Regions from separate parts of the Homo sapiens genome. Here regions 1, 2, 4 and 5 are each linked to region 3. The links come from fine-mapping of genetic effects on gene expression. A gene starts in region 3. Each other region holds a variant in brackets. All regions are shown on one strand. Distances are between the middles of the regions.

Evidence for each region.
Region 1: its variant is fine-mapped to the expression of RBM47 in monocytes after LPS (Quach 2016, PIP 0.95).
Region 2: its variant is fine-mapped to the expression of RBM47 in whole blood (TOPMed, PIP above 0.99).
Region 4: its variant is fine-mapped to the expression of RBM47 in whole blood (INTERVAL, PIP above 0.99).
Region 5: its variant is fine-mapped to the expression of RBM47 in whole blood (TOPMed, PIP above 0.99).

The regions. Positions count from the first base shown.
Region 1 is chr4:40,595,858-40,601,967 of GRCh38, reverse strand. All of the region lies in intron 1 of RBM47 (RNA binding motif protein 47), which reads left to right. Among named protein-coding and RNA genes, the nearest start is that of RBM47, 31 kb to the left of the region's middle. RefSeq lists an enhancer at 6,027-6,110. The variant A/G (reference allele first, on the strand shown) is at 3,080.
Region 2 is chr4:40,571,251-40,577,360 of GRCh38, reverse strand. All of the region lies in intron 1 of RBM47 (RNA binding motif protein 47), which reads left to right. Among named protein-coding and RNA genes, the nearest start is that of RBM47, 56 kb to the left of the region's middle. RefSeq lists enhancers at 1-32, 53-222. The variant C/T (reference allele first, on the strand shown) is at 3,289.
Region 3 is chr4:40,626,702-40,632,811 of GRCh38, reverse strand. RBM47 (RNA binding motif protein 47) reads left to right here and starts at 2,948. Exons shown (of 7, transcript NM_001098634.2): 1 at 2,948-3,416. RefSeq lists enhancers at 3,085-3,154, 2,337-3,214, 3,215-4,091.
Region 4 is chr4:40,553,075-40,559,184 of GRCh38, reverse strand. The region is part of intron 1 of RBM47 (RNA binding motif protein 47); the gene reads left to right. Among named protein-coding and RNA genes, the nearest start is that of MIR4802, 54 kb to the right of the region's middle. The variant C/T (reference allele first, on the strand shown) is at 3,037.
Region 5 is chr4:40,423,254-40,429,363 of GRCh38, reverse strand. RBM47 (RNA binding motif protein 47) reads left to right here. Exons shown (of 7, transcript NM_001098634.2): 7 at 3,221-6,084. The coding sequence ends at 3,460. It overlaps RBM47-AS1 (RBM47 antisense RNA 1), which reads right to left and starts at 3,231. Exons shown (of 2, transcript NR_199039.1): 1 at 3,182-3,231; 2 at 1,782-2,576. RefSeq lists an enhancer at 2,743-3,942. The variant C/G (reference allele first, on the strand shown) is at 3,391.

The DNA.
Region 1 (6,110 bases), 31 kb after region 3:
CAAACTCCTAACCTCAAGCTCTCCACCCACATTGGCCTCCCAAAGTGCTGGGGTTACAGGCGTGAGCCACCACGCCCGACCCAGAGAGATTTCTTAATTTCCCCTAAATTGAAGGGCTAGTAAGTGGCTGAACTGAAACAATTTCCTTTAAGGCCTGTTCTTTTCACCACAACTTGGGGCCACCTGGGGTTGGCAGTTGGACTCGTAGTTTCCAGGAACAGAGAGCAGAGGAAGGAGGCCAGTGCGGGAAGAGTGGCAAACAGTATACATGATAAATCCACAATGGAAGCCTTGTAACTAATTACGTCAAGCCAACAAACAAGCAAGCGAAGCTTTTTTGGCATGCCAGTTTAAATCCATTGTTCTTTTGCTGCTTTTCTGCTTAAATAATTAAGGCTCTTAAGTACAAATTAACCTCAAGCTAACAAAAAGAGAATGCCATTGACTTGATTGAGATGTCATTGAAATCTTTTCCGTTGCGTTCAGGTAGTTTTCTGCACACATGAACTTTCCATGAGTGGTCATGGAATGATCCAGCATGTTTTTATCTGGACAGGGCCAGCGGGGCTTTCTGGTTTGACACACCATCCAATGTAGAAATGCCTCTCCAACATTAGCGATAGTCATGATCTGACAAGCATGTGCACCAAGAACTTCCCTTGGGCCAGGCACTCATTTATAGTTCTCTGAGATTGCTGTTACCAGTGTCTCTATTTTACAGTTGAGCAAGTAGACTCAGAAAGGCTAAGCAACTTGCCCTAAAACACACAGCTAATTATAGCAAAGCAGATCCAGATTCAGGTCTTCCTGATTTGGTATTTGGAGGGTTCAGTTGCTATGCTTCTTCATTGCTTCCGTCCTGGCCTTGAATTCTTACGGTGATGGTTACATCATCATTTCCGTGAGGCACTTGAGGCTGTGACTGGAAAGGCTTACTAGGAAGATCTTTTTTATGTTCTTCTTTCTTTTTTTTTTTTTTTTTGAGACGGAGTTTCACTCTTGTTGCCTAGGCTAGAGTGCAGTGGCGCGATCTTGGCTTACCGCAAACTCCGCCTCCCGGGTTCAAGCGATTCTCCTCCCTCAGCCTCCTGAGTAGCTGAGATTACAGGTGCCTGGCACCACGCCTGGCTAATTTTGTATTTTCAGTAGAGACGGGTTTCTCCATGTTGGTCAGGCTGGTCTTGAACTCCCGACCTCAGGTGATCAGCCCGCCTTGGCCTCCCAAAGTGCTGGGATTACAGGCGTGAGCATGAGCCACTGCGTCCGGCCTTGAAATCTTCTTTCTTGTAACTTTCATCTATAAAGCCTACTTCTGCTTGCTTTTCTTTTTTTTTGAGACGGAGCCTCGCTCTGTCGCCCAGGCTGGAGTGCAGTGGAGCGATCTCCGCTCACTGCAAGCTCCGCCTCCCGGGTTCACGCCATTCTCCTGCCTCAGCCTCCCGAGTAGCTGGGACTACAGGCGCCCGCCACCACACCCGGCTAATTTTTTGTATTTTTAGTAGAGACGGGGTTTCACCACGTTAGCCAGCATGGTCTCAATCTCCTGACCTCGTGATCCGCCCGCCTTGGCCTCCCAAAGTGCTGGGATTACAGGCTTGAGCCACCGCGCCCGGCCTCTGCTTTCAAGAATAGTATCAATTAAGATCCCTTCTTTAGGCCAGTTGTGGTGGCTTATACCTGTAACGCCAACACTTTTGGAGGCAGAGACAGGAGGATTGTTTGAGACCACACATTCCAGACCAGCCTGGTCACCACAGCAACACCCTGTCTCTACAAAAAAAAAAAAATTCATAAAAAAATTAGCCAGGTATTATGGCTGTAGTCCCAGCTGCTCAGGAGGCTGAGGTGGGAGGATCACTTTGAGCCCAGGAGGTCAAGGCCGCAGTGAGCTATGATGGCGCCAGTGGACTCCAGCCTGGGCAACAGAGTGAGGCCTTGTCTCAGGAAAAGAAAAAAAAAATTCCTCCTTTGGCGTGGGAAAGGCACTCATCCAAAAATTTAAAGTGTAGGGGTATATTAGTGTGTAGTTTCTAGAATGATGCCAAGGGCTCAGTTATCTCTTGATGTACAACAAACCACCCTATATTCACTGAGTGCCTACTATCTCATGATTTGGACCAGATTTGGGCAGAGCTTAGCTGGGAGATTCTGCTACATGTGCATTACCTGGGGTTAGTTGGTAGTATTCAACTTGTGGCTAGTCTGGCTTGAGGATTTTTTTTTTTTTTCTAATTCATTTCTGTATTCTCATCTGAAGGCTTGATGATTTAAGATGGCTTTGCTCACATGCCTGACACCTTGGCAGGAACGTTTCAGGGCCTCTCCATAAGGCCTCTCCTGCTGGGTGGTTGGACTTCTTACATTTCAAAGTGTCCCAAGCGTGAGTGTCCCAAGAGATAGGACAGCAAAGCTACCAGGCCTGGGTTTGGAAGCTGGAAGAGTGTCACTTCTGGGTTGAAGCAGGCACAGAGCCCACTCAGGTTCAAGTGGAGAAAGAGTGGATCCCACTTCTCAATGAGAGGAGTGTCAGAGAGTTTACAGACATTTTAAATCTGCCACACTAAGGATCAACCTAAATGGGTTTCCATTTTCCTGGGTTGGGGGTGGTAAGTGTAAGTACCTATTTGGATTTGAAAATCCTGCTGAACTTATTTTCTCTATTTTGTGGCATTTGAACTTTAGGGACTTCTCTTTCTTTTTTTTTTTTTTTGAGACGGAGTCTTGTTCTATCGCCCAGGCTGGAGTCCAGTGGTGTGATCTCGGCCCACTGCAACCTCCGCCTCCTGGGTTCAAGCCATTCTCTTGCCTCAACCTCCTATGTAGCTGGGATTACAGGGGTGTGCCACCACACCTAGCTAATTTTGTATTTGCTTTTAGTAGAGTTGGGGCTTCATCATGTTGGCCGGGCTGGTCTTGAACTCCTGACCTCAAGTGATCTGCCCACCTTGGCCTCCTCAAGTGCTGGGATTACAGGTATGAGCCACTATGCCTGGCCAGGGACTTCTCTTTCTAATAATTATAGAATAATGTTTACCAGTACTAATTATTTATTGAAGTCAAGGATGATGAATAAATTACG[A/G]CAGATTCCTCCTCCCCAACTCTTTTTTTTTTTTTTTTTTGGTTTTACAAGAATAAAAGACTTTCTGATAATTCATTTATGGCTTAAACACATATGAGCAGAGGACAGATGGACACTATAGAATATAGAATGTAGAAACCCTAAATCAAAGGATTTTTTAAAAATAGCTTAATTTGTACTCTTACTATATTACATCATTTTCAGACTTTCATTCCTGCAAAGCATTTGCGATGTTTTTATTCTTTAAAGCAGCATTTTATTTTTAAAAATTCACCTATTTATTTATTTGTCTCTTCTTTTTTTTTGAGACAAAGCATCATTTTAAAGTTCTATGATTGGGGCCGGGCGCAGTGGCTCATGCCTGTAATCCCAGCACTTTGGGAGCCTGAGGTGGGCAGATTGCTTAAGCTCAGGAAAGTTTGAGACCAGCCTGGGCAACATGGCAAAACCCTCTCTCTACAAAACAATACAAAGACTAGCTGGGCATGGTGGTGTGCACCTGTGGTCCCAGCTACTCAGGAGGCTGTGGTGGGAGGATGGCTTGAGCCTGGTAGGTGGAGGTTGCAGTGAGCTGAGATCACACAACTGCACTTCAGCCTGGGTGACAGACTGAGACCCCATCTCAAAATAAATAAATAAATAAATAAAGTTCTGTGATTGGGGTCAATGGTAAATCTCCTGTGTGCGCACTTTATTTCCCATTAGACATTGCGGCAAAATTCAGTGGTCAGTCCTCTGTATATTAGTAGAAGGAGTTAATTGAAATTGTTTCTAATCTTTTGATCCTTGTCACACTACTCTGCTATGCAATAATACACTAAAGAATTTTCAGAAAGTGAATGTTGGAGACTTAATATAGCTCCCTGCCTTAAAAAGATTCCGTTTTGTGGAGTTAGGCTAGCAGTTGGTATGCTAAATTGACCAAAAGATCTTGTTTTAGAAAACAGAAAATGCTTTAATGCAGAAATGAAATCAAGAGACTTAAGATTAGAGAGGTGAATACATTTTTGCCAGTGTCTGCTCCTTCTGGCTAGATGCTCAGGAAAATTTTTCATGGTGATTCAAAAACTGAAATAAGAGCCTTTTCATGGGCAGGTGCTATTGTTTGTTTGCTTATTTATTTAATGCCTTTTACTAACATAATCATTTCTGCAAAAAAATGGTAATGAACTTGGGCACATTTATGTGCATTGTTTTGTTTTATTTAAAATTTCCAGTTTATCAAATTATTTCAAAAAGTATTCATTTAAATGAATACATATTTAATACCTATATGAATATATAAATATTTATTCATTTATTTATTTGAGATGGAGTCTTTCTCTGTCACCCAGGCTGGAGTGCAGTGGCGTGATCTCGCCTCACTGCAACCTCCGCCTCCTGGGTTCAAGCCATTCTCCTGCCTCAGCCTCCAGAGTAGCTGGGATTACAGGCCTGGCTAATTTTTGTATTTTTAGTAGAGACGGGGTTTTGCCATGTTGGCCAGGCTGGTCTCACACTCCTGATCTCAAGTGATCCGCTCCCCTCAGCCTCCCAAAGTGTTGGGATTACAGGTGTGAGCCACTGCCCTCAGCCTATAAATATTTATTTATTGAAGTATTTTGATAAACTAAAACTATTTTTTTTTTTGAGATGGAATCTCGCTCTGTCACCCAGGCTGGAGTGCAGTGGCACGATCTCGGCTCACTGCAACCTCCGCCTCCTGGGTTCAAGTGATTCTCCTGCCTCAGTCTCCCAAGTAGCCGGGACTACAGGCGCGTGCCACCACGGCCAGCTAATTTTTTGTGTTTTTAGTAGAGATAGGGTTTCACCATGTTAGCCAGGATGGTGTCAATCTCCTGACCTCATGATCTGCCTGCCTCGGCCTCCTAAAGTGCTGGGATTACAGGCGTGAGCCATCGCGCCCGGCCGATAAATTAAAACTTTAAATACTTAAATACTTAATATTTAAAAATTTGTTTTATTTCTGACCTACTGAAAGGTACAACAAACACCTCTGTATCTGGGACCAACATGAGGAATAAACCACTGGAGAGATAACTGAAGCCCCTCGTGCCCCTCAACTTGATTCTCTCTCTCTCTTCTCAGGGGTGGCCACTCCCCTGAATGCAGTGATTATCCTTCCCAAGGACGTCCTTTTTCCTGTGCTACATATGGTGTGTACTCATACACAAGGCGTGGGGCTTTGCATTCTTGATGGTTAGGGAGGAAGATTAAAAGAAGATTAATCTTTTGGGCCACTTGGGACATTAGATGAAAGTCAAATTTCATTGTCCATAAATACAATGTTATTGGAACACAGTGTAAAGACCTATTTATGACTGTTTTGCTCAACATGGCGGATTTGAGTAGTAGCCACTCAAACTGTATGGCTCAAAAAGCCTAAAATTTTTCCCGTCTGACCCTTTACAAAATGGTTGCTAACCTCTTGTGTAGCATAGGCACACACACTACACTGAGTAAATAATCTGGCTACAGAAAGAGCAATATATAGGTACATGTGCCTGCACCAGGAAGTGAATAAAAGACCTCTTCCCCCCCTTAAACCTAAGAATTCTCCTGTCTTTTTCTCTTGCCTCAGGAGATCAGGAATGATCCACCTTTCTCCTCCCACCTCTATCCACGGAATGATGTTATCTTATTCCTCTGCTTTAAGCTTCTTTCCTCTTGCTCTTCCTTTTCCCACCTCATGTCGACAAAACCAGCAAATTCCATTTGTCCTGTGACAGAAAGAACAGCTCCAAGGATAGTCACGTCCCTGCTCCTGAAAGTTCTCATCTTAGCAGCATGCTTTGCCCATGTCTCTGATTAGGCACATTGCATTCCCTTGCAGCTTTCCTTGTCTTCTGTGGCTTAGAATGCTAGCTTATCAAACACTGACTGCGTGCAGAGAGGCTGCGTCCACACTGGCTGCAGATAGATACATGAAGACCAGCAAAAAGTAATTGAGCAAATAACATCTCTTTTTTTTTTTTTTGGCAGGGGGGACGAAGTTTCACTCTGTTGCCCAGCCTGGAGAACAGTGATGAGA
Region 2 (6,110 bases), 55 kb after region 3:
TGAGCAGGCATTTCCCAGTTTGAGGAAGTCCCTGTGGCCTGTGTTAGATTCGGCCACCAGCATGCACAGAGCTGAAGCGTGGGTGCAGGCATTGGCTAGATGGGGTTCAGCCCCTTTCCCAGAACTGAAACTGGTCCCAATCCATCTCTTGGCTCAGCACTCCAGGAAGGCTATTTGAGGAAGCAAACCTATAAGGAACTAAGAACAGTCATGTGTTCATGATTGACTCACTCAGGGTTTCCTCTTTAGCACGTGACCCTCAGGCCACCCATTCCTTGGAGTGGGCTGAAAGTTAATGATTCGTTACTGCCAGGGACGCTTTATTTGAGCAACTCCTTTTTTTCTCCTGGCTTGAGTCACAGGTAGCATTCAGCATGGACTTTGGAGCCAGCCTGTCTGAATCTAATCACTCAGCTCCACCAGCTCTGTGACCCTGGGAAAGTTATTTAATGTCATCCTATCTCAGTTTCTTCATCTATAAAATGGGTATCATCATCATCATCATCAGGATTTCTGTGAATATTATATGAGATAACACATGCAAAGTGTTTACAACAGTGCCTGCCACACGGGAATTTAAAGTATCTAGAAAGTGAAACAACCCTCAGTTGCTAACTTCAAAAATAGAAATGAGCTGAGCTTGCACCTGTAATCCCAGCACCCTGAGGGGCTCAGGCAAGAGGATCACTTGAGGCCAGAAGTTTGAGGCTGCAGTGAGCCATCCATGATCATGCCACTGCACTCCAGCCTGGGCGATAGAGTGAGACCCTGTCTCTTTTAAAAAAGAAAAATGACAAATGATTTCTCATTGTGATGTTAGTATGTTACGTTTGTCTGATATTTTACAGTTTCCAAAATGCTTTCATATATGTTATGTAAGTTGATCACAGGGGCTAGGTAGTAGTTAGAAAGTTTCACCTTTGTAAGAAATAGGCTTGGAGGCCAGGCATGGTGGCTGTTGCTATGTTGCTCAGGCTAGGAGTTCAAGACCAGCCTGGGCGACATAGCAAGACCCCATCTCTACAAAAAAATTTTTTTAAAAAATTGATCAGGCATAAATATGATTGTGGGTGACAGGGGGAGACCCTGTCTCCGCCCCCCCCCAAAAAAAAAAAAAAAACAGAAAAGAGAAAGAAAAAAAGAAATAGGCTGAAGAAAGGGCATAATCTGGGAAAGATAAGGGAAAGCATGTAAGGGATCCTTTCTCAAGGAATGCATTCCATTGCCTGGGGCACTGCCCCAGGAGGAGGTGAGGAAAGATGCCTCTTAGCAAGCTATGTGAGCCTGCAGGGAAGGAACACTTCCCCAGTGTCCGATCCAAAGGAGAACCCTGCCTTGGGTGGCGACAGAACCAGATGAGCTATTAACAATGCCCTCCTGGCCACCAGCACTGGCAGGCCCCCATTTCTTCTGGGCTTCCTCTGGATCAGAGAGCACCTCTGAGATCAGACCCTTTCTCTCCCTGCTGGAGCCAGGCCTCAGGAGCTTGGTAATGTGTGAGAACAAGCACAGAGGAAACCATGAAGGAATCTGAGGTTTCTCTTCAAAAGAGAGAAAATTCCAGATGACCAAATATCACTGTACTCTTGGCGGACAGAATGGCTTCATTTGTCCTTTCAGTGCTAAAACCAGGACAGTCCTGGGCAAACTGGCATGGGTTGGTCACTCAGACACACAGTAGCCCTTATCAAAGTGGTCCAACGGGGATTAAGGACAAAACCATTAAGTATTCAAATTTTAAGTATTCAGTTAACTTGGGGAGACTTCTTTATAGGTAGCTATTCCTTGGTAGTTTTTTTTTTTTTTTTGAGATGGAGTTTCGCTCTTGTTGCCCAGGCTGGAGTGCAGTGGCACGATCTCGACTCACCGCAACCGCTGCCTCCCAGGTTCAAGCGACTTTCCTGCCTCAGCCTCCTGAGTAGCTGGGATTAAAGGGGCCCGCCACCACTCCTGGCTAATTTTGTATTTTTAAGTAGAGACCGGGTTTCTCCATGTTGATCAGGCTGGTCTCGAACTCCTGACCTCAGGTGATCCGCCTGAATCAGCCAAAAAGCTGGGATTATAGGTGTGAGCCACCACGCCCAGCTTCCTTGGTATTTCTTTATAGGTAGCTGTATTAATAACATTCCCTTTGTGAATTACAGTGTCTGTTCAGTGTTTCTGTAGGGCCAGTATTCTTCAATGTAGGGTTTCTCAATCTTGGCACAGTTGATATTTTGGATTGTTTTAAGGGGTTTTCCTGTGCATTATAGGATGTTTAGCAGTATGCCTGTGCTTATTAGAAGCCAGTAGCACCCACCACCAAAAATGTCTTCATGCGTTGCCAGATAACTTCTTGGGGACCCAAATGGTTCCCAATTGAAAACTATTGCCTTGAGGGGTCTATGGCAGCTCCCATGTTTTAGGGGAATTGACCCAAACTGATTATCTTCGTAACCTATCTGATGTTCTCTTCATTTTTTGTTCTTTTCCTCCAGTTTTGCCAATTCTGATGCTTTTTCTTTCTTCTTTGATACAGAGTCTCACTCTGTTGCCCAGGCTAGAGTGCAGTTGTGTGATCTTGGCTCAATGCAACCTCTGCCTCCGGGGTTCAAGTGATTCTTCTGCCTCAGCCTCCCGAGTAGCTGAGATTACAGGCATATGCCACCACACCTGGCTAATTTCTGTATTTTTAGTAGAGATGGGATTTCACCACGTTGGCCAGGCTGGTTTTGAACTCCTGATCTCAGGTGATCTGCCCACCTCAGCTTCCCAAAGTGCTGGGATTACAGGCGTGAGCCACCACACCCAGCCCATTTCCAATACTTTGATAGCTTCCTTGACTTTTTCATCTTCCCTGTCATCTATAATCTTGTGATTACCTATGAGATTCTAAAACATACCTACAGAATACAGGTTTGTCTAACGTTCTGAAAAGAGTCATTCTGTTGAATTATTTTTGGAATCTGGAAATTCTTTCTTCTAACTTTTCAGTTTGTCTCAGTCGGGTGTCCCCTGAGGTTCTCTGGAATCAAACAAATAAAAGTCTTTATTTCTTAGAAAAACCAGAATTAAACTCGGTCTTAACTGAAAAGCTTGTTTCTTCTCATGGTACTAGTTTTACCCAGTCTATTTCTGAAATAATGAGATTATATTTTATGTAAAACTTTAGGAGGAGTTTCCTACACTCTGGGAGAATATTTAGATCTCGGAAGTCTAATAACCCACAACAACTGCAGAGAGGCTGCAGAACGGAAGACCATTTGCACAATCTGGATTCTTCCACCTCGTGCAGTCAGCCCTGTTCTT[C/T]CTCATTATTTAAGTGAAAAATATTCTAAACACTGCTCTTCGGTTGCTATGAAAGCTTTGTGGCAAAAGGTCATCTGATCCACCATAGCCTTTAACAAATGAAAATTTAAACCAAAGATGTCTAATACAATTTTATAAAGTTTTACAGAAATGGAAATTATGATTATCTTTCTTAGGAAACTGTTCCAATTTTTCATTACCCTCAAAGTCAAAGTTTATTTTTCTTTCTTTCTTTCTCTTTCTTTCTTTCTTTCTTTCTTTCTTTTTCTTTCTTTCTCTCTCTCTCTCTTTCTTTCTTTCTTTCTCTCTCTCTCTCTTTCTTTCTTGCTTTTCTTTTTTTAGACAGAGCCTTGCTCTGTCTCTTCCCCAGGCTGGAGTTTAGTGGCATGATCTAGGCTTACACCAACCTCTGCCTCCCGGGTTCAGGCAATTATCCTGAGTAGCTGGGACTACAGGCACATGCTACCATGCCCAGCTAATTTTTGTATTTTTTGTAGAGATGGGGTTTCACCATGTTGGCCAGGCTGGTCTCGAACTCTTGACCTCAAGTGATCCACCAGCCTCAGCCTCTCAAAGTGCTGGGATTACAGGCATAATCCACTATGCCCAGCCTAGTTACCCTCAAACTCAAAATTTCATCCTTTTCTTAACTACTGAAGACAATTTCTCTTTATAATATTTACTTTATTTGAACAAATTTTAAGCTAATTATAAAATTAACAGTGGCCCTGGAGAAACACAGAACACAAAGGAGATAATTAAAATCACCTGCAGTCCCAGTACCAGGGATAACTGGAATTAATGTCTTTAAAAAATGCATATAAGATGTGCTTACCAAATTCTCTGGTTAGATTTCTCTTCTTCAGTTCTCAACTAGGGATAGAAAACACTTCTACAATTTTTTTTTTTTTTTTTTTTTTGAGATGAAGTCTTGCTCTGTCACCTAGTCTGGAGTATAATGGCGCAATGTCGGCTCATTGCAACCTCTGCCTCCTGGGTTCAAGCAATTCTTCTGTCTCAGCCTCCCAATTAGCTGGGATTACAGGCACCTACCACCACACCCAGCAGCTAATTTTTGTATTTTTAGCAGACAGGGTTTCACCATTTTGGCCAGGCTAGTCTTGAACTCCTGGCCTCAAGTAATCCGCCCGCCTCGGCCTCCCAAAGTGTTGTGATTCCAGGTGTGAGTTACCGCATCCGGCCCACTTCTGCAATTTTGTGGTGAATTTTAATATATTGTACTTTCAAATGAATAAACAAGGAGGCTCACAGGAAAATTGAAGAATGCATAATGTTGAAGACTTTTTCATTATTATTATTTTTTAAAATTTTTATTATTTAAATTTAAAAAATAGAGATAAGGTCTCACTATGTTGACCAGGCTGGTCTTAAGTGATCCTCCCATCTCGGTCTCCCAAAGTGCTGGGATTACAGGCATAAGCCACCACAGCCGGCCCACTTTCATTATTAAGTTGTTGTTTTGTTCAAATAAACTACATGTGGGTACCAACTGTTCTTAGTTTCTAATCTGTCTTTAGGGAATTTTTTAATGCTATGCAAGTAAATACACTTAGAGCTTCTATTCCTCTCCTTTTCCACAAAAAGTAGAATGTTAGGTGCAGCTTGTTTTTCTTCACTTAACAATATATCTTGAAGATTTCTCAATAACAGTACATTGAGAGCTTCCACATTGCCTTTTTTTTTTTGAGATGGAGTCTCGCTCTGTCACCCAGGCTGGAGTGCAGTGGCGCAACCTCCGCCTCCTGGCTTCAAGCAATTCTCCTACCTCAGTCTCCCTAGTGGCAAGGATTACAGGCGGATGCCACGAGGTCCAGCTAATTTTTGTATTTTAGTAGAGAGGGGGTTTCACCAGGTTGGTCAAGGCTGGTTTCGAACCCCTGACCTCAGGTTATCCACCCGCCTCGGCCTCCCAAAGTGCTGGGATTACAGGGTGAGCCACACCTGGTGGGTTTTTTTTTTTTTTTCCAGTAGTTTTTGAGGAACAGGTGGTGTTTAGTTGCATGGATAAATTCTTTTTTTTTTTCTTTTTGAGATGGAGTCTCGCTCTGTTGCCCAGGCTGGAGTACAGTGGTACAATCTCGGCTCAGTGCAACCTCCGCCTCCCGAGTTCAAGCAATTCTCCTGCCTCAGCTTCCTAAGTAGCTGGGATTACAGGCATGGACCACCACGCCTGGCTAATTTTTTTTTGTATTTTTAGTAGAGATGGGGTTTCACCATATTGGCCAGGCTGTTCTCTAACTCCTGACCTCAAGTGACCGCCTGCCTCAGCCTCCCAAAGTACTAGGATTACAGGCGTGAGCCACCGTGTCCAGCCAGATAAGTTCTTTAGTGGTGATTTCTCAGATTTGGGTACACCCATCACCCGAGCAGTGCCCACTGTATCCAAAGTGTAGTCTTTTATCCCGCACCCTCCTCCCACCTGGTTTGTATTTTTTAAAAAAAATTTTATGTAGTTGAATTGTCAATCTTTTATTGTGATTTTTGGATCATGAGTCAGAATAGAAAGGTCTCATTTCAGATTATAAAAGATTCTCCTATGTTTTCTTGTAGAACCTTTGTGGTTTAATTTTTCACATTTCAATATTTGATTTACTCAGGACTTATCCTGGTATGAGTTACAAGGTATAGATACAACTTATTTTTTTCTAGATGAATATCTAGTTGTCCCAACACCACTTATTCAGTAGTTCCTGTCTCTACTGGTATGATACACCTCTTTTATCATTTACTAAATTCCCATATATACTTGAACATATATCTGGATTTTCTATCCCATTCCATTGTTTTGACTACTTATGTGT
Region 3 (6,110 bases):
CTCCACACTTTCAAATTTCTTTTATTTTTATCATTTTTTAAATTTATTTATGTGTTTATTTTTTTTTTTGAGACGGAGTCTTGCTCTTTCGCCCAGGCCGGAGTGCAGTGGCGCGATCTCGGCTCCCTGCAAACTTCACCTCCCGGGTTCAAGCCATTCTCCCGCCTCAGCCTCCCGAGTGGCTAGAATTACAGGTGCCTGCCACCATGCCCAGCCAATTTTTGTATTTTTAGTAGAGACGGGGTTTCGCCACGTTGGCCAGGCTCATCTGGAACTCCTGACCTCAGGTTATCTGCCTGCCTCGACCTCCCAAAGTGTGGGGATTACAGGCGTGAGCCACCGTGCCCAGCGAGAATGTCCCCTCTAGAATCCTTCAGCTCAGACAGTCTGTGACAGCGAGCCTTTTTTGAGGCCATAATCCAGATACTTCTGGAAAAGAAAAGAAAATTTCAGGCTAATATGGAGCTGGGTTTTTTAGTTGTCTTAAGGGGGTGGAGCCGTTGTTTGTGCCTGGCAGCATCAACCCTTAGGTCTGGTGAGGGAACTTAGCTAAGAGAGTTCCCACTGCCTGCTGTTCACAGTACATGCTGGCTGGTATCGACAAAGAATGAACCTAAAACACAGGAAATGTTGAATTTGTCTGGGTTAAATTTTGCCTCATGAGAAGATAAAAGATCAGAAGGATTTAAAATGTTCCAGAATGCTTTGCTGGTTTTAAGGAATCATTTTTCCCAAAGGTGGCAAATGCTGCTTTTTAAATTTATGGTTTTCTTGATACCCCTTCAGCCTTTGTTTCTCTCTCTTAGGACTACTACTTTTTAATTAATTTTCACTTAACTTTCCAATACTGATGAAATAAAGAAAAATGAGGGTTATTTATATATATTTTAATAAATCCAGTTTGATTTTTCAACTTAAAAAAAAATTAACTAGAACTGAGAACCAGTCCTGGCCTCACCACCTTGGACTTACACTTAACCTGTGTGATCTCAGTGTCTTCATCTGCAAAATGGGGACAAAATAGCTCATAGGATCATTTTGTAAGGATCACATAAAGTAAGAAGGGTGAAAGTGCTCCATAAAGTAGAAAGGGCCTCACTAATGGAAAGGGATTATGATTTCTTTCTTTAAATGTGAAGTTAAATGGAGGATAAAGGGTGGAGGCACTGATAACATTTTAGCCTTCAATAATCACTTTTTAATATTTATGAGGAGTTTCAAAATCATTTCCCTCTCTTTCATACTGCTTTTCAAACGGCAAGGGTCATTATTTGTCCGGCCCAGTCTGGGATAAGTAACTATCCCAGGGTAAGACACCAGGTCAAGTGCCAAAATACAAATGAGAATTAAGCATAGCAGATGGGTGATTGCTGGGCCCTGAATTTCCTTCCCGTTAGTGAGCTTCATGGAATGCAGGCAAATTTATCTCCATTTCTGTTGTCAATCTTGTAACTTTTAAGTGAGATGAAATTCAGTTGGCTACCCTTTACAGGGACTTTATTTCCCATTGTATTCAAGACTGTCAGCAATGAATATAAACTGTTTGTAAAAATCCCATCGTTAGAATCTTCCAGAAACTGAGGCTGGGAGAGATTAAATATCTTGCTCATGGCCTCACAGCTGGTGAGTGGCAATGCTGGTGCTACAGCCCATGTCTAACTCTGACCACACACTCTTCTTCAGAAAAAAGCCATAATGTAAATAATAATAAGAAGAATAACAACAACAATAACGGCAGCTAACACTGTGTGCTAGGCACCGTTCTAAGCTCTTTGCATGTGTTAACTCAACCAGCAAAGAACCATTTTTGGAACATTCTTTCACTAAAGTAGCCCGGTATTTTTTTCTTTCCCCTCAGCTGAATGACACTGCAACCCGAAATCACAACTCTGTTTTAGGTTCCTGGTGGTGCCTGCTTCCTCTTCTAGTTTGTTTAGTCACAGAATTCGATTCCTGTTGGCCCATTCCGCGCCTACAAACAGGCTTAGCGCTCCACTGAAATGCGGGAGGCTCCTTAACTCTTGTATAAACAGGTAAGGCGGAGGGGGTGGGGCGCGGATTGCGGACATCTGGGTTTCTTGGGAATTGGGATGGGGTGGGGGTTCGAGCCAACTCCCCAGAGAGCAGGCAAGGTGAAGCGAGGGCTTGGCTGCTGTTTCTAAATGCAGTGTTTTTTTGTTCCCTTTCTAGAAACCCTCCGTAACTCTAGGTCAGAGCGCACTAAAATGAGCCACTTCTGAACGAGCAGCGCCCAGGCCCCAGGCCCTGCTGCGAAGGCCCCGGCAAAGGTCAGGGCCCCGTCCGCGTGACGCTCCTGCCTGCGCGCGGCCAAGCCATGCTCGGCCCCAGGTAAGGACGCCCCGGGAGCTCGCCCCGGGAGCTCTCCCCGGGCACGCGGGGGTCGCAGAGATCCCACCTCGTCCAGCGACTTGTTTATGGGGGGAAGAAGGGGAGCGGGGCGGTTCCGATCGGCTTGAAATTCAGCAGCAGGTTCCTAATTTCTCCAACGTGGTTCTGGCTGGGTTTCTCGGAGCAGCCCGAAGGGGGCCGAGCGTCTGACTCGGACAGATGCCCCCAGGTGGAGCAGGTGCCACTTCTGGGTGTCTGAAAGGCATGTGACTTTTGGGGCGGGGAGAGAAGTCCGTCTGGTCAAGTCCCCCAATCTCTGCCATCAAGGCCGATTTTCTTTGAACCTTCAGCAAAGGTATCTGCGCTCCTAAAAAACAACAGGAATGTGGCACTGGCCTTTAGCCAGGGGAGGCTCAGCCAGCAGGATAAAATTTCAGGGCAGATTTACGGGAAGTTGCCGGTGTTGGGAGTAAAAATCTGGTTTGGTGAGTTTAAGGGAAGGGAGTAGACGAGAGACAACCTTGCTACTGTGAGGCGGATGGCCTCGGCAGGGGGCGGGCGGCGGGAGGAGAGAGGGAGGGAACCGGGAAGGGCCCGCAGACTAGACGCTGAGCGCTCCCGTGCGCAGCGCCCCACGCAGCCGGGACGCGGCGCCGCTCTGCGGGTGGAACCGCCGCGCGCTCCCGGCCTCGGGAGCTGAGCCCGAGAGAACTTCGCTGCCTTCGGGTCGCCGCTCCCGCTTTCCACTGTGGAATGTGCAGCTTGGGATAGAGAGAAACCAGGGTTTGGGGAGCGGTCCTCCTGGAGACTTTCTCTCTGCAAGTCTCCAAGGTTAAGCAATTCTGACCCACTGGAATTCCCAGAGCCTGGGAGTTAAGCCTAAAACGCTCTGTTGCTTTAAGCGGCGCGGTGGGGAGTCGCTGGACACTCCTTATTTTGGTTTTACATTAAAAAGAAGGCGGACGAGAAGATGTTGTAGGTGACTTCCTAGCTGTGTTAAGTTGCTCCTGGGCTGTGAATGGTGTTAATTTCTGAAGTGGGCGGCTCCAAAAACTTAACAAGGAAAGGTAAGGTGGTTTTTGGTAGTCCTTCTAACTATTGTCCCTTAATCTTACATTTGGGTCCCAATTTTTGAAGTGTATATTTTTTTCTTATTCTTCTCTCTTTAGCTCTTATCCCTCATGCTATCACTCATCTTCTGTCTCTTGGTATATTTAGTGGGAAATAAAGGGTTTATAAAACGGTTTTAAAAGGGTCAACCTCTGGGAAGGCAGATAATCATATACAGTCAGTCCCATCGTGTTTCCTGTAGTGATGAATCTTTTCCCATAAAAGAAACTGATTTTTTTTTTTCACTCTTGAAAATACATGATTGGACCGCCCAGAAGCACAGGTGACTTTAGACTCAGATTATTACAGTGAGACTGAGGAAGCGTCCTGGACAGGAGGCATCTCATTTAAGTGTTAACCAAGGCAGAGGGGGGTCTTCCTGCAGTAATTTACGTCTGAAAGTAACACTCGGTAGAGGTGTAGTTGTTTCAAATTAAAAATTCAGCCTGTAGAAAAGGGTAGGACTGACGAATTATGACATCTGACAAATTAGCAGTTGACCGGATATTTAAGAAATCAGATAAAATAAATGGAAGTGGAATTTTTCAAATAAATGACTCATTTTTTAATTAGGTAAAAGTTCAGCCACTCTTGGGTACTGTCCCAAGGCATAAGTGATAGGAAGATACCATCTTCAAGGTACTTACAGGCCATTACCGACCTGAACTAAAAATCAAACCTTTTTTTTTTATCTGGTGGTATTTTAATGACTCACTGTTTTCTTTAGCAGGAATATAGATTTTAAAATGTATTCTTTAAAAGTTTTAAGGCAAGGTCATACGAATTTCTCAGGGGAGGGAAAGCAAAGGGTTGACAACCCAACATGAAGGAGTTGCCGAAGTTTTGAGCTCAAAAGGTTGGCAATTAGATCCAGAGCATTTGAGAATTGCAGGTGCCGATTCTAAAAGGTGAAAGGTGGTCAGCGGCGTAACACACAACCTCTAGATAAACCAAAGTACTCAACCTAGAGCATAAGAAGAGATCACTTTGTGGGAGTTTGTGTTGCTATTAATTTAAACAATGATCTTTGTTAGATCAATGACTTGAAGTCTTGGAGGGAACTAAAATCAACCCAGTCTGAAAGGAAAACAGAAGGAAAAAAAGAAAGGAGGAGATGGTTTGGTTTTTAATATTTTTTTCTGGTCTGCTTTACCCTTCACCTTGTTCTGATATACACACTGTTGGCCTCTTTGACTTAATTATTGCATGCTGGAAGGATGGGGTCTCAGAAATTTCCCAAGCACCTAGCTTCATTATTAACTTTCAGTATGTGTCAAATGAAGAAATAAGCCTAGCTGTGCCGTCCTTTACCTGGCTAGGTAGGCCATGCTTTAAATTAATTAGATCAAGATATTCTGAATATCAATCAATTATTAAAGATTTATTATCTTCCTCTTGGTTTTTGCGTTTACAGAAGTTTGTAGGATTGAGAATTCATCATCATCATTTTTTTTACCAATCTCTATATTTTTAATAGTCAACATATTTATTTTTGATTCCCCCACTGTGCTGCTTTAAATTAAATTTTGAAAGAATTCTGCCCAAAGCAGTAGTGATACTGAGGATGAAATAAAGACAGAAAGCAAGGGAACTACATGCTTCTGGACACGTGTTCTATAGACTTGCTCTAACTAGTGTTAAAGACTACTCATTTTTTTCCTCACATGATAAGAACATTCATATTAGACTATTTGGTTTACTGTTCTAGGTAATGATTTTTTAAAAGATTGGGTTAAGATGAAATTATTTTCTTACAAAAGGATTTAATTTGCTTTTCAAATTCTGCTCTGAAGCTCAAGATTAAATCATGTCCCAAATGACTGAGCTTTCATTGCTATAGAAAAGCATTTGGCTATTTCAGTAAGTTTCCGCCTCCACATCTTAAGTCTCTTGATTTTTCAGAAAAGGTCAGGGGAGTGGATATAAGCGTGAAGGGAGGGAGATTTTCTTAAAATTGGACCCAGGCTCAAGTGAAACTGTGATTAGGTAATCCCAGAAGATACATAATTCTGGGGAAAAAAAACTCTGAAGAGGGTTTAAGTTTGGGATTCATGAGACTTAGAAAAAGGGTATGCTTAGAATAAAGGTAGAATTTGTGTGCCAAACTTTGATGAAGTTACAATGAAGACATTAAATGCAGCTTTAAGTGCTTGTCACCGTGATTCCAAGCTACAGGTTATATTGCAGTGTTTCAGCTACTGGCCTGATTAGGAGATATATTTTCTTTCCCTCTTGGGAACAGTCTCTGTGTCTTAATGATGATGCTGATTTTCTGGTTTAATATCATAAAAGGTGTGTGTTGGTCCCAACATTACTGCTCCAAGTAGTGGCTTCAAAGAGCAACTGGATAAAGATTTTCAATAATAGCAATGCAGAGATGACCTGGGTTTCAAGATAGGAGGCCTTTGGAGCCTTCAGAGAATTGTCATAGAAATGATCAGTAACTAATTGCTCAGTTGCCACCTCAAGTTGTTGTTTCCATCTTATGCGGGAGAGATTCGGGGGAAATGGCACCCTGCCATTTTTTGTGTGTGGTCCTGAATCATCCTGTTGGTAAAACTCCTGAGGTCGTCTGAGCTGGAGTTCTGATTGCTTCTGTTTCTCTCATAGTTGCTTCCCCGTCTATTCTGTGAGCGTCTGTATGGGGAGAG
Region 4 (6,110 bases), 74 kb after region 3:
TTGGTGAAGTAGCCTCTAAAGAAAAAACCATTACTGAGGGGCAAATGCTATCTATGTCATGGTAATATACCTTGTAATAGGGATAAATACCTTGTAATAGGGATAAAATAAAGGCTGGATCTGCCCTATTCACCACAATCACTAGCACAGTGCTTGGAACATAGGAGGGGCTTAGTACACATTTCTTTTTTGAGACGGAGTCTCACTCTGTCACCCAGGCTGGAGTGCAGTGGCGAAATCTTGGCTCACTTCTACCTCCGCCTCCTGGGTTCAAGTGATTCTTCTACCTCAGTCTCCCAAGTAACTGGGATTACAGGCGCCTGCCACCACGCCCGGCTAATTTTTTTTTTTTTTTTTTAGACAGAGTTTGACTCTGTCGACCAGGCTGGAGTGCTGTGGCACGATCTCGGCCCACTACAACCTCTGCCTCCCGAGTTCAAGCAATTCTCCTGCCTCAGCCTCCCAATTAGCTGGAACTACAGGTGTCCACCACCACACCTGGCTAATTTTTGTATTTTTAGTAGAGATGGGGTTTCACCATGTTGGCCAGGCTAGTCTTGAACTCCTGACCTCAGGTTATTTGCCAACCTCAGCCTCCCAAAGTGCTGGGATTACAAGCATGAGCCACCATGTCTGGCCCATTTTTTTTTTTTTTTTTTTGTAGTTTTAATAGAGACAGGGTTTCACCATGTTGGCCAGGCTGGTCTTGAACTCCTGACCTTAAGTGATCCACCTGCCTCGGCCTCCTGAAGTGCTGGGATTACAGGCGTGAGCCACCATGCCCAGCCTCAGTACATATTTTTTAGACATTTACTCATTCAATAAATGATTGAGTAAATGAATGTCTAAATGTTAAAAGTCACAGAATTCGATATAGTTTAAGTTAAAGCAAATGACAGACCAAAAGTTCACAGGGAGAAAAAATGATTTCTGAGCCTGTGTTAATGAGATATCTGTAATTTAAGAGGAGAAATCCCAAATTTCAAATATCAACTTATACAAACTGTGAGTCACTTATTTCTCTGAGCTTCAGTTTTCTCCATCTGCAAAAAATGAGAATAATAATATCTGTTTTGAGCACAAAATGAAGCAACAGTGTAAAAAGATTAGGTGCAAAACTCCACTATGGGAGCTTTGAGGAATTCAGGACGATGTAATTTACACTGAGATGTGCTTATAATCTGCTTGGGAAGACAAGATCTAACCAGAGTACACATTAAAAAAGAATAAGAAAATTAAGCAACAATCCACAACTATAAAGATAACAGGTCACTGAGCAACATATGATAAATTGCCAAATAGGATTGCCTAGGCAATAACAATTTCACAACTCAGAGGTGGGAGAAGGCCTTGTGTTTGTCTGCTGAGGAACCTCTGATTTTTTATTGTAAAATTCTATACTCATGCATTCATTCATTCAACAATTTTTTTTTTTAAGGTGGGGTTTCGCTCTTGTTGCCCAGGCTGGAGTGCAATGGTGCGACCTTGGCTCACTGCAACCTCCGCCTCCTGGGTTCAAGCGATTCTCCTGCTTCAGCATCCCAAGTAGCTGGGATTTCTGGCACCCACCACCATGCCCAGCTAATTTTTGGATTTTTGGTAGAGACGGAGTTTCACCATGTTGGCCAGGCTGGTCTTGAACTCCTGACCTCAGTTGATCCGCCCACCTCAGACTCCCAAAGCGCTGGGATTACAGGCATGAGCCACTGCGCCCAGCCAACTCAACAAATATTTATGGAGCTACTAGGATGTGGCAGGTGCTATGCTTCATGCTGGGAACACAGATGAGCATATAGATATAGTACTGTCCTCAAGGAAATTACAGTCTAGTAGGAACAGCCAGTCAGTGAACAAAGAAAGCCAGGAGTATTTAATTAGAACCCACGATGACTGCTCAAAGGGAAAGTGTACACCAAGATGTGGGTGAGAATTAAAGGGTGGGACAGTCTACTTTGGGCATTGGGGAAGGCTTCCCTGAGGAATTGACATTTGAACTGAGATCTGAAGAATGGAGGTAACCCCAAGGACTTAGCCAAGTAAGCACACTGTGGGCCCAAATGATCAGCATCTTTTACTTCCACCAATAATGAATTTAGGGGACAGAAAAGTTGAAGCATAAATTATAATTGCTCTGCATTCTGGACATTAGGGAAATATCAATTTTTAATGAGCGTACACTTTCATATGTGCACAACTCCCCCCAACGTGCCCCCCAACACACATTCTCAGGCTCACAACCCACCTGCAGCTCTTCATCCCACCTCATCATGTAAATGTATATATATATATTTTTTTGAGACAAGGTTTCTCTCTGTTGCCCAGGCTGGAGTGCCGTGGCGCAAACTCAGCTCACTGCAACCTTTGCATCCTGGGCTCAGGTGATTCACCCACCTCAGTCTCCCAAGTAGCTGGGATTACAGGCGTGCACCACCATACTCGGTGAATTTTTTTATTTTTTATAGAGACAAGATTTCGCCATATTGCCCAGGCTGGTCTGGAACTCCTGAGCTCAAGTGATCCTCCCGCCTCAGTCTCCCAAAGTGCTAGTATTATAGGCATGAGCCACTGTGTCTGGCCCTCATAGTATAATCTTAAAAAGAATGTATTAGTTTGGTGCAAAAGTAATTGCGGTTTTTGCCATTAAAAGTAATAGCAAAAACTGCAATTACTTTATTTTTGAGACAGAGTCTCACTTTGTCACCCAATCTGGAGTGCAGTGGTGTGATCGTGATCCTCCTACCTTGGCCTCCCAAAGTGCTGGGATTACAGGCATGACCTACTGCACCTTAATCTTCATTAAGTAATGAAGATTACTTAACCTCATAGTGTAATCTTAAAAAGAATGTATTAGGCTGGGTGCAGTGGCTCAGCCTGTAATCCCAGCACTTTGGGAGGCTGAGGCGGGCAGATCACCTGAGGTCAGGAGATGGAGAACAGTCTGGCCAACATGGTGAAACCCCGTCTCTACTAAAAATACAAAAATAAGCCAGACGCGGTGGTGCATGCCTGTAATCCCAGCTACTCAGGAGGCTGAGG[C/T]GTGAGAACTGCTTGAACCCAGGAGGCAGAGGTTGCAGTGAGCCAAGATCACGCCACCGCACTCCAGCCTGCGCGACAGAGCCAGACTCTGTCTCAAAAAAAAAAAAAAAAGAAGATCTTTTCAGGTCTTTAGCAGGTTGGCTTCAGTGTTTCCCAGAGGCTCCTGGGGAAGATGTTCAAGGAGGCAAAAGTTTTGATCTCCAAGCCTCTGGATGCCATTTTCCCGAAAGTGGCCATGACTTCTGGGAAGTCAGCTGTTCTGTGCCCTAACTCACCTGGTGTCATCGCTGGTCCAAATTGCCTTCACAGGTGACAGCACAAGGCCACCTTGGCTGTTCATCTTTCCGAATTCTATTTCTGGGACCCACATCAGAAAAACAGTTGAGGAATCACTGACTTTCAGATCACATTCCCATCATTCATGAGAGAGGCAGGATGATGTGGCGGCCGCAGGCATGGCCTGCAGAATTAGGCTGCCTGATTGCAGTCCTAGCGTTGCCAGTTACTAGGTGTGTGATGTGGGCAAGTTACTTCTCTGCATTAATATAAGTGAGAAATCCTTGTCGAAACCCATTGGGTCAGATGTGTTTTAGAAGCCAGAACATTTCAGATTTTAGAAAGATAATATGTTGCACGTACCCTGTGTTGCTTAATACCACTCATCTCAGGCAGTATTCCTTGATCACACCCATCACTATTTCTTCAGCAGAGCGAATGGACACTCAGACATGCTGCAAGAAACGAAGGCTGTAGAGAGTCTCATTAGAAACTAGAAAGTCAGGGGCTGGGTGCGGTGACTCACACCTGTAATCCCAGCACTTTTGGAGGCTGAGATGGACGGATTACTTGAGGACAGGAGTTTGAGACCAGCTGGGCAACATGGCAAAATCCCGTCTCTATTAAAAATACAAAAATTAAGCCGGGTGTGGTGGCTCACGCCTGTAATCCCTTTGGGAGTCTGAGGCGGGTGGATTGCCTGAGGTCAGGAGTTCGAGGCCAGCCTGGCCAACATAGTGAAACCCCATCTCTAGTAAAAATACAAAAAATTAACTGGGCATGGTGGCGGGCGCTTGTAATCCCAGCTACTGGGAAGGCTGAGGCAGGAGAACCGCTTGAACCTGGGAGGCGGAGGTTGCAGTGAGCCGAGATCGCGCCATTGCACTGCAGCCTGGGCAACAAGAGGGAAACTACGTCTCAAAAACAAAACAAAAAACCAAAAATTAGCTGAGTGTTGTGGTGCGTGCCTGCAGTCCCAGCTACTCAGGAAGCTGAGGCAGGAGAATCACTTGAACCCTGGAGGTGGAGGTTGCAGCAAGCCGAGATCACGCCACTGCCCTTAAGCCTGGGAGATTCGTTAAAAAAAAAAGGAAGAAAGGGAGGGAGGGAGGGAAAGAAAGGAGAGAGAGATGGGGGGAAGGGAGGAAGGAACTAGAGCGTCGGATTTTGCTGCTAAATTATTTCTTTAAAATTTTTTTTCTTCCTCTAGAGCAATCAGAAAGAATGCTGAATTATTTCTAAAAATTACTTGGTTTTTCAGAGTTGTAGTGCCTCTTACAGGTGAGATGTACATCTTGGAAAGAATTCAATGAGAGCATATATATATAAAGTGCTGAGAACAGAAGGCACCATGCAAGTGTGAGCTTTCATAAAGTAAACTTACTTGTTATGATGAAGCCACTGGAGACTTCATTTGTGACACCGTGGCCAGCCCACCAGCTTTTGTCTTTTTTTTTTTTTTTTTTTGAGGTTTGCTTTGCATATCCCACTTTTTTCCTAGGTATTTTCCATGCTGGGCTATTTGACTTACGTTAGAAGCAAAGCAGCCCCCAGATGTTACTGTTGTGCCTGGTATGTTGTCAAACTGCACTTTAAAAGGACAGAGGACAGGAAGTAAATGACGCATGACTCAAGTGACTGGAAATGGTTCTCGGATAGGAAGTTATCATTGGGACAGTAATGAGAGGAAGTACAGTTCAGTTGAATGAGGCCTTAGAGAGCATTCGTTCCCTGGGCGCAATCCCACTGAGTGCATTCTTTGCACCAGGCACCGTGCTGGGTCCTGGGGTTGCGGAGATGAATACGGGACTGTGCATCCTTTAAGTGGTCCCGCGTCTCCTGATGTTCACCATTTCTATGTGAGCTTGGAGAAACCAGGTAACCTCTCTGCACTTGCGTACTCAGTTTCAGGACAAAAGGGCTGGCTGGCTCATCTTACGACGAAGGCCCTATTTTACCTTCAAATGTCTCTGATCGCAAAGAACTTCTTAGTAGAGGTTGCTGGCCAACCACTGTTCAGCACTCTGAATTCAAGTAAAGGACATGGGCTTTTTAGCTTGTTGATAGTAAAAGTCTTGGAACAGGTTTGATTAAGGGCTTATTATCTCTCCAACCAGGGGATATTTTATTTCTCAAATATTGACTATTGACTAGTGCTAGACCCTGCGTTAGGAGCTGGGAGTGCCTTGGTGAAGAAGAAAAAGTCCCTTATCATGGAGCTCACATTTTAGTGGGGCAGATAGATAGTGAAAAGTGATAAAAATGAATACATAATTGGCTGGGCGTAGTGGCTCACACCTGTAATCCCAGCACTTTGGGAAACCAAGGTGGGCAGATCACCTGAGGTCAGGAGTTCAAGACCTGCCTGGCAACATGGTGAAATGCCATCTTTACTAAAAATACAAAAAATAGCCATGCATAGTGGCATGCGCCTGTAATCCCAGCTACTTGGGAGGCTGAGGCAGGAGAATTGCTTTAACCTGGGAGGCTGAGGTTGGAGTGAGCCGAGACCACGCCACTGCACTCCAGCCTGGGTGACAGAGTGAGACTCTGTCTCAAAAATAAAATAAAATAAAATAAAAAATACATAATGCAATTTCAGATAATAATATGAGCAAAGAAGAGAAATAAAGATAGGGAAGAGGAAGAAAGAGTATACAGTTGGTGATTGGAGAACTCTTTTAAAAGAATAATCAATTCATGAAGTATTCCATATTAAAAAAAAAAAAAAGCAATCAGAGGTGGGGCGTGGTGGCGCGTGCCTGTAGTCCCGGCTACTCGGGAGGCTGAGGCAGGAG
Region 5 (6,110 bases), 200 kb after region 3:
GAAAATTTCTTTCTTACTGTAGTTCTTAGCAACCTCAGCATAGGATTTTTTTTCTTTCCTTATTAAGTAGAGAACTTTCCCCTTTTCATTTACAGGAAGGCCTTTAGTGCTCCTCGTTGGCATATCCAAATTGCCAGCATTACTACTCTTGCACTTTGGGGCTGATATTAAGTAAAATAAGGGTTCCTTGACGGTCAATCTGATAACCCAGATGGCTATTAAGTGACATGGGCATGGAGCACAGACAGTGTCGTTTTCCTGGACAAAGGGATGATTGGTGTCCCGGGCAGGATGGAGAGGGATGACATGAGATTTCATGGAGCTACTCAGAAGGGTGCACAATTTAAAACTTATGAGTTATTCATTTCTGAAATTTTCAGTTTAATATTTTCAGACTTCAGTTGACCGCGGGTAACTGAAACCATGGAAAGCAAAACCAAGTGCTTCCCCATATATTCTCATTTTACAGATAAGAAAATTAAGGCCCAGCAAGGAGACAGAATTGCTGGCCGGGAGTAGAATTGGGATTGGGAGATCAGATGCCTGATCTCTGCATGCTTTGTCCTTATAGTGTGGTGAATGCTATCATAAAAGGGACATCACATGAATGAAAAGAGAAGCCATGGGTTTGGGGACCTACTCTTGATTCCAGGCCGTAAGCCAGTGCATGTCTATGTGCAAAACTTGGTGTTGGAGTGGGCAGCCTGAACCCAGGTGTTGGGCCGTCCTGTAGCACATGGAAAGGTCTCTCTCACATGTTGCCTTCCCTGCCATTTCCTCTCCCTTTTTGCACTGGTTATTAAACCTACGTCCACACATGTGGAAAAGGTGACTTGTGTCTTGCTGTGAACCACAGTCTTTCCAGTTCTGGAGCTCCTCTCCCTGGTTGTAAAATGTCACTGATGAGACACTCATTGTTTAGGGTTGTAAGAAGCAAGTTAACGTAAGGCTAAAAGTGCAGGCTCCAGAGTCACACATTGCATTGCTTAAAAGCTGTGTCACTTTGTGCAGGTCATTTAACACTTCCACACAACTCCATATAATCATAGTACCAACTCTACTGGTGGCTGTGATGATTCAATACTGTCATACAAATAAGGCACTTAGAATAGTGCCTGAGTTTGGGGGTTTGTTTTGTTTTGTTTTGTTTTGTTTTGTTTTGTTTTGTTTGAGACAAGGTCTCACTTCCATTGCCCAGGCTGGAGTGCAGTGGTATGATCCCAGCTCACTGCAGCTTTGAATTCCCAGGCTCAGGTGATCCTTGCACCTCAGCCTCTTGAGTAGCTGGAACTACAGGAGTACGCACCGCCATGGCTGGCTAAGTTTTGTATCTTTTGCAGAGACAAGGTTTCGCCATGTTGCCCAGGCTGGTCTCGAACTCCTGGCCTCAAGCCATCCTCCTACCTCAACCTCCCAAAGTGCTAGGATTACAGGCATGAGCCACCTCACCCAGCCTCTGAGTTATTAATTGTTATAATTATCATTATAATTATAAATTAAAATTATTATAAATTATAATTACTATTTGATTATAGTTTTAAAAAGTAATCTTAGGCTAGAAGTTCCTAAGTTCCTTTGAGCACAATTTTGGAACTCTGATTTGCAAATTTTGTAACAGAAATTAGAGCTAATTCCTTTATAAAAATCCAGGAAGAAATAATTATTTTAATTCACCATTTCACATATGCTGAATTGTTTATTTTGAAGATGTATTAACATATAGGGAGACCATACCAGCATTTACTACCAGGCATTCTATGGCTCATGAGGTGCACCAAATATTTTGTTAAATGAATGTTTTATTTTATTCAGAATCTCTTTTCAATGAAGCATCTCACAGAACTAGTTCCATGGCAAACACTTTGGGAAATACTGAACCACAGTCTTCCCATTCATACTCCTGTTTGTTCTGAAAACATCTTATGTTGCACTTTCAAGTAGACAGAAGGAAGTAGCAGGGGCTTTTCTAGAGCCAGTGGTGGCCGTCAACAGTTCAGGCAACTTTACTTAGCTTGTCCTTGCCCACTTCTTCCTCATTTGGAAACTGCTCTTTATCCTTCAAAACTCAGCTCGAATATCCCCGCTGCTGAGACATTTTCTCCAACTTCCCCATTAGTTGGTTCTTTCTCTAAGCTTCTACAACAATTTGTATACATTAATGGTGTCATCTCTTAGGTGGGAGGTGATGGAAACCATCACATTGGCTGAAAATTGTGTATGGTCACAATTTTTTAAGGTCACAGCTTAAGAAGCTGTCCCTTTGGAGATCAGTATATTTGGTTTCTCTAAGTTGACACAGTCTGTTCCTCTCTCTGTCTCTGAGACAGATCATATTCCATCAGTTAAGTATGAGTTGAGGCAGCTGGCATGTATCTAGAGGCCATGTTTAAGGAAAAACACTGATTTTTAATTACTGTGAAATCAATTGTGTGGATGGTAGATTCTCCGCTGCCTTCTCTAGCTCACTCTGGGGCATAGACTGATTGAGTGGAATGGTAAGTAGAAGATTCCGGAATACAGTACAGAGAAGGTCCTCCTTATCCGCAGTTTCTGCATCTGGATTCAACCAACCGTGGCTTGAATAAAGACAATAAAAAATAACAATACAACAATAAAAAAATACAAATGTCAAAATACGATATAACAACTATTTACATAACATTTGCATCATATTAGGTATTATAAGTGATCTAGAGATTATTTTTAAAGTGTATGGGTCCCAAGACTTTGGGAGGCTGAGACAGGAGGATTGCTTGAGGCCAGGAGTTCAAGACCAGCCCTGGGCAACATAGTGAGACCTTGTCTCTATGAAAAAAAATTTTTTTACAGTATACAGGAGGATGTGCATAGGTTAAATGCAAATACGCCATTTTCTCTCAGGGACTCGAGCATCTGAGGATTTTGGTATCCACGGAGGTCCTAGAGCCAATCACCTGTGAGGATACTGAGGGGCAACTGTATTTCACCTTTCCCTCAGCCTTCCAGGCCTCTCACTTTCACAAGGTGGCATCACTGAGTTTGAGGATGCAGCTCCACCTTACCTCTTCAGTGGCTCTTCTCCCACTTGCTTACAATAATTGCTGTTTGCCCGCCCCTCTGCCTTTCTCTCCCTTGCTTTTGTGTCTTTGTATTCCCGTCTTCTGGGAGAGGCTTGTTGAATGAATGGATGATAGGTACATACACGTGTTCAGGAAGGCTCCTTTTTGTCTCTTCTCCTCAGGGCCGCCCAATAACTCCAGTATACACGGTGGCTCCAAACGTTCAGAGAATTCCTACTGCCGGGATCTACGGGGCCAGTTACGTGCCATTTGCTGCTCCAGCTACAGCCACGATCGCCACACTACAGAAGAACGCGGCAGCCGCGGCCGCCATGTATGGAGGATACGCAGG[C/G]TACATACCTCAGGCCTTCCCTGCTGCTGCCATTCAGGTCCCCATCCCCGACGTCTACCAGACATACTGAGGCTGGTGACCAGCACGAAGACAGACCACACAAACACCACTGAAGGAACGCTTGACTATTTATGAAGAAGGAACATGTTGGATTCACACATGCAACCTGAAAGTGAAGAATGTTAGCAGATTTATTTCTGAATTATTTTATATACATGAAGTTTTCACTAGTTTTTTAAGACTATTTTCAACTTAGCATGCCTACGTTCATACATTTCCAAAAGACTTGCAATGGTTCGTGCCTTCATTCCATCTTTTAAAAATTTGTATGCTGTACTACATTTGTATAGAGGTTTTTGTTGTTGTTTTTTTAAGGATATATTTTCAGTATGAAGGTTATTTTCTTAACTTCTGCACTCCAGAGATTTCTATTTTGTAGTACCTTCAATAATATATCAACTATATATTAAAAAAGCACACTTGAGGAGCTAGGGAACTATTTTGAAAAATATATACAATATTTAAAGATACAAACAGTAGTGCTTAAAAATACTACATAAAGCATTATTTTAAAGGTTATACTGGAAAGTGCAATTTTAAAATGAGTAAAACCTCTGTATTTCTGCTGGCATTAAGGGTTGATGGTGTTACCATGTATCATCATGGCGGTACTATTTTTTAAAAGAAATTAAACACTGGATCTCTCCTTAAGCCAACATTGAAAAGACTTGCCGCACTTCTGAGTCCAAACACTGGAAAGCTCTCCTTTGCCACCGTTAGCCGGGGCTCATTCTCCATGTGCCTTAGCCTTAAACATGCCCCCACTCCCACATCTCTCACCCTGTCCCCTCCTCCCCAGATTCCCAATCCCACCGCAATGTTTGGCAAGCCTAGGACTGATAAGTAGCTCTGATAGAGGAGCTGGTGGCTTTTATACTTCTTCCTGGGTTTTTGTTGGGGTTTGTTGTTTCGTTGTTTTTTGTTTTTTTTTTTGTTTGGTTGGGGAAGTATTGTCTTCTACGTGTGCTATTTTCAGTAGCAGAGTAAGCACAAGGTTTTAATCGAGTTGCATAAGACACCTTTGCATAGCTATTTAATTGCCCAATGTAAAACTTTAATGCCATTTCTAATGCTTTTATTCATTTTTGAAGTATGAGTTTGTAGGGACAAAGAATGTATGTTATCGTAGACAAGACCCCCAGAGACTCTTTTCAGCAGAAAGTTATGCTTCTAGTTGCCTTACCATGTTTCTTGCAAAACTGTCCATGGTCCTCAAGGGTGTTGGAAACATTATGTTTATTAAATGGGCCTCTCTTCCTTTGCTGTGCACTTGATGGGTGAACTGGATTGGGGTGTGCACATCCAGGAGGAGGAGGAGAGACCTGTAGAAGTTTAAAGATAGTTTGTAAATATCTTCTAATGCTTGTTTTTAGTCCTTTTATGTTGGAGAAGTTCATGGTATGTAGTTTAATGCAAAATGAAACCATTTTATTTCAATGTTATTAAAAAGGTTTGTTTTATTAGGAAGTTAATGTATTGTTGCAGTGTTTTGTGCCTGTTTAAAGGCTTTTGTTTAGCAGAGTGAATGTAAAATACAGTAAAATGTTAAGATTGTCATCTACTTTTTAAAAAAAAATATCAACTTGGAATTGTTTTTTAAAGGCTCAATCAAGGAAGTGAGGTGTGCAATAAGGTAGCAAGTAAAACGCAGTTGCGTTTTTATGTCATGTTAGAGATCCATACAATTTTCCACTCACGGGATTTTTGTTGATGGCTGAATTCTTGTGGATTCATAAGAGGATCATGCCCTTAGCAAGTACTTTTGTTTTGTTTTAAATTAAGAGATTCCCAAATGCCTTTTTCCCCCTCATCTTGAAATGAGATGAGTTTTTATGTGTAAGCAATATTTATTTAACTATTCTATAAAATTATTGAGTGCCTACTGAGGCCTTTAAGCACCGCTAACATTCCTTTCCATCATTCTTTTAAATGACATAAAATAATTGTGCAATGTTCCTGATGATGTACCCCACAAGCTGCATTCAAACTCAAATCTGTGGGAATGAGTGACTCGACAAAATGTAATTCGGATCAGATCCTCATCCCCTGACTGTGTGAAAAAAGTACTCTCCTTCTAGTGAAGGATTGTCACAGAGTTTCACTGGATGAAACTATGACCCAGTATTCTTACTGTATTTTACATATGCCTGTAAATTATTTGCAAAAAAGAAGAAGAAGAGGAAGAAAGAAAAGAAAGAAAAGAAAGAAAGAAAGAAAGAAAGAAAGAAAGAAAGAAAGAAAGAAAGAAAGAAAGAAAGAAAAAGAAAGAAAGAATAAAAAAAAATGATAACATGGCAACCACCAAACTCCCTTAAAAACAAACATTGGTGACATGGCCAATTAAGTATCAGTGAGCCTCCTATCTGGGACTTATCTGTTCCTATTGTTTCAAAACCATTTCATGTACACTACTGAGGTAAGTTTATAACTTGAAATGTGAACTTTTTTTTTTTTTAGTGTTAAGAACAAACTATATAAATGTAAAAAAAAAGTTTTAGAGTTCTGTTTTCAAACATTGCTAGTGGTTTAGTTAACTTTAGCTGCTTTATATTTGAAAAGCTTTTATTTAGATCTTGCTCCATTTACAGTACATTCTTAGGATGTATGTAGTAAATAAAGCTTTCTTTAAAGCAATCGCAAGACCTTATTTTAAATTGTGT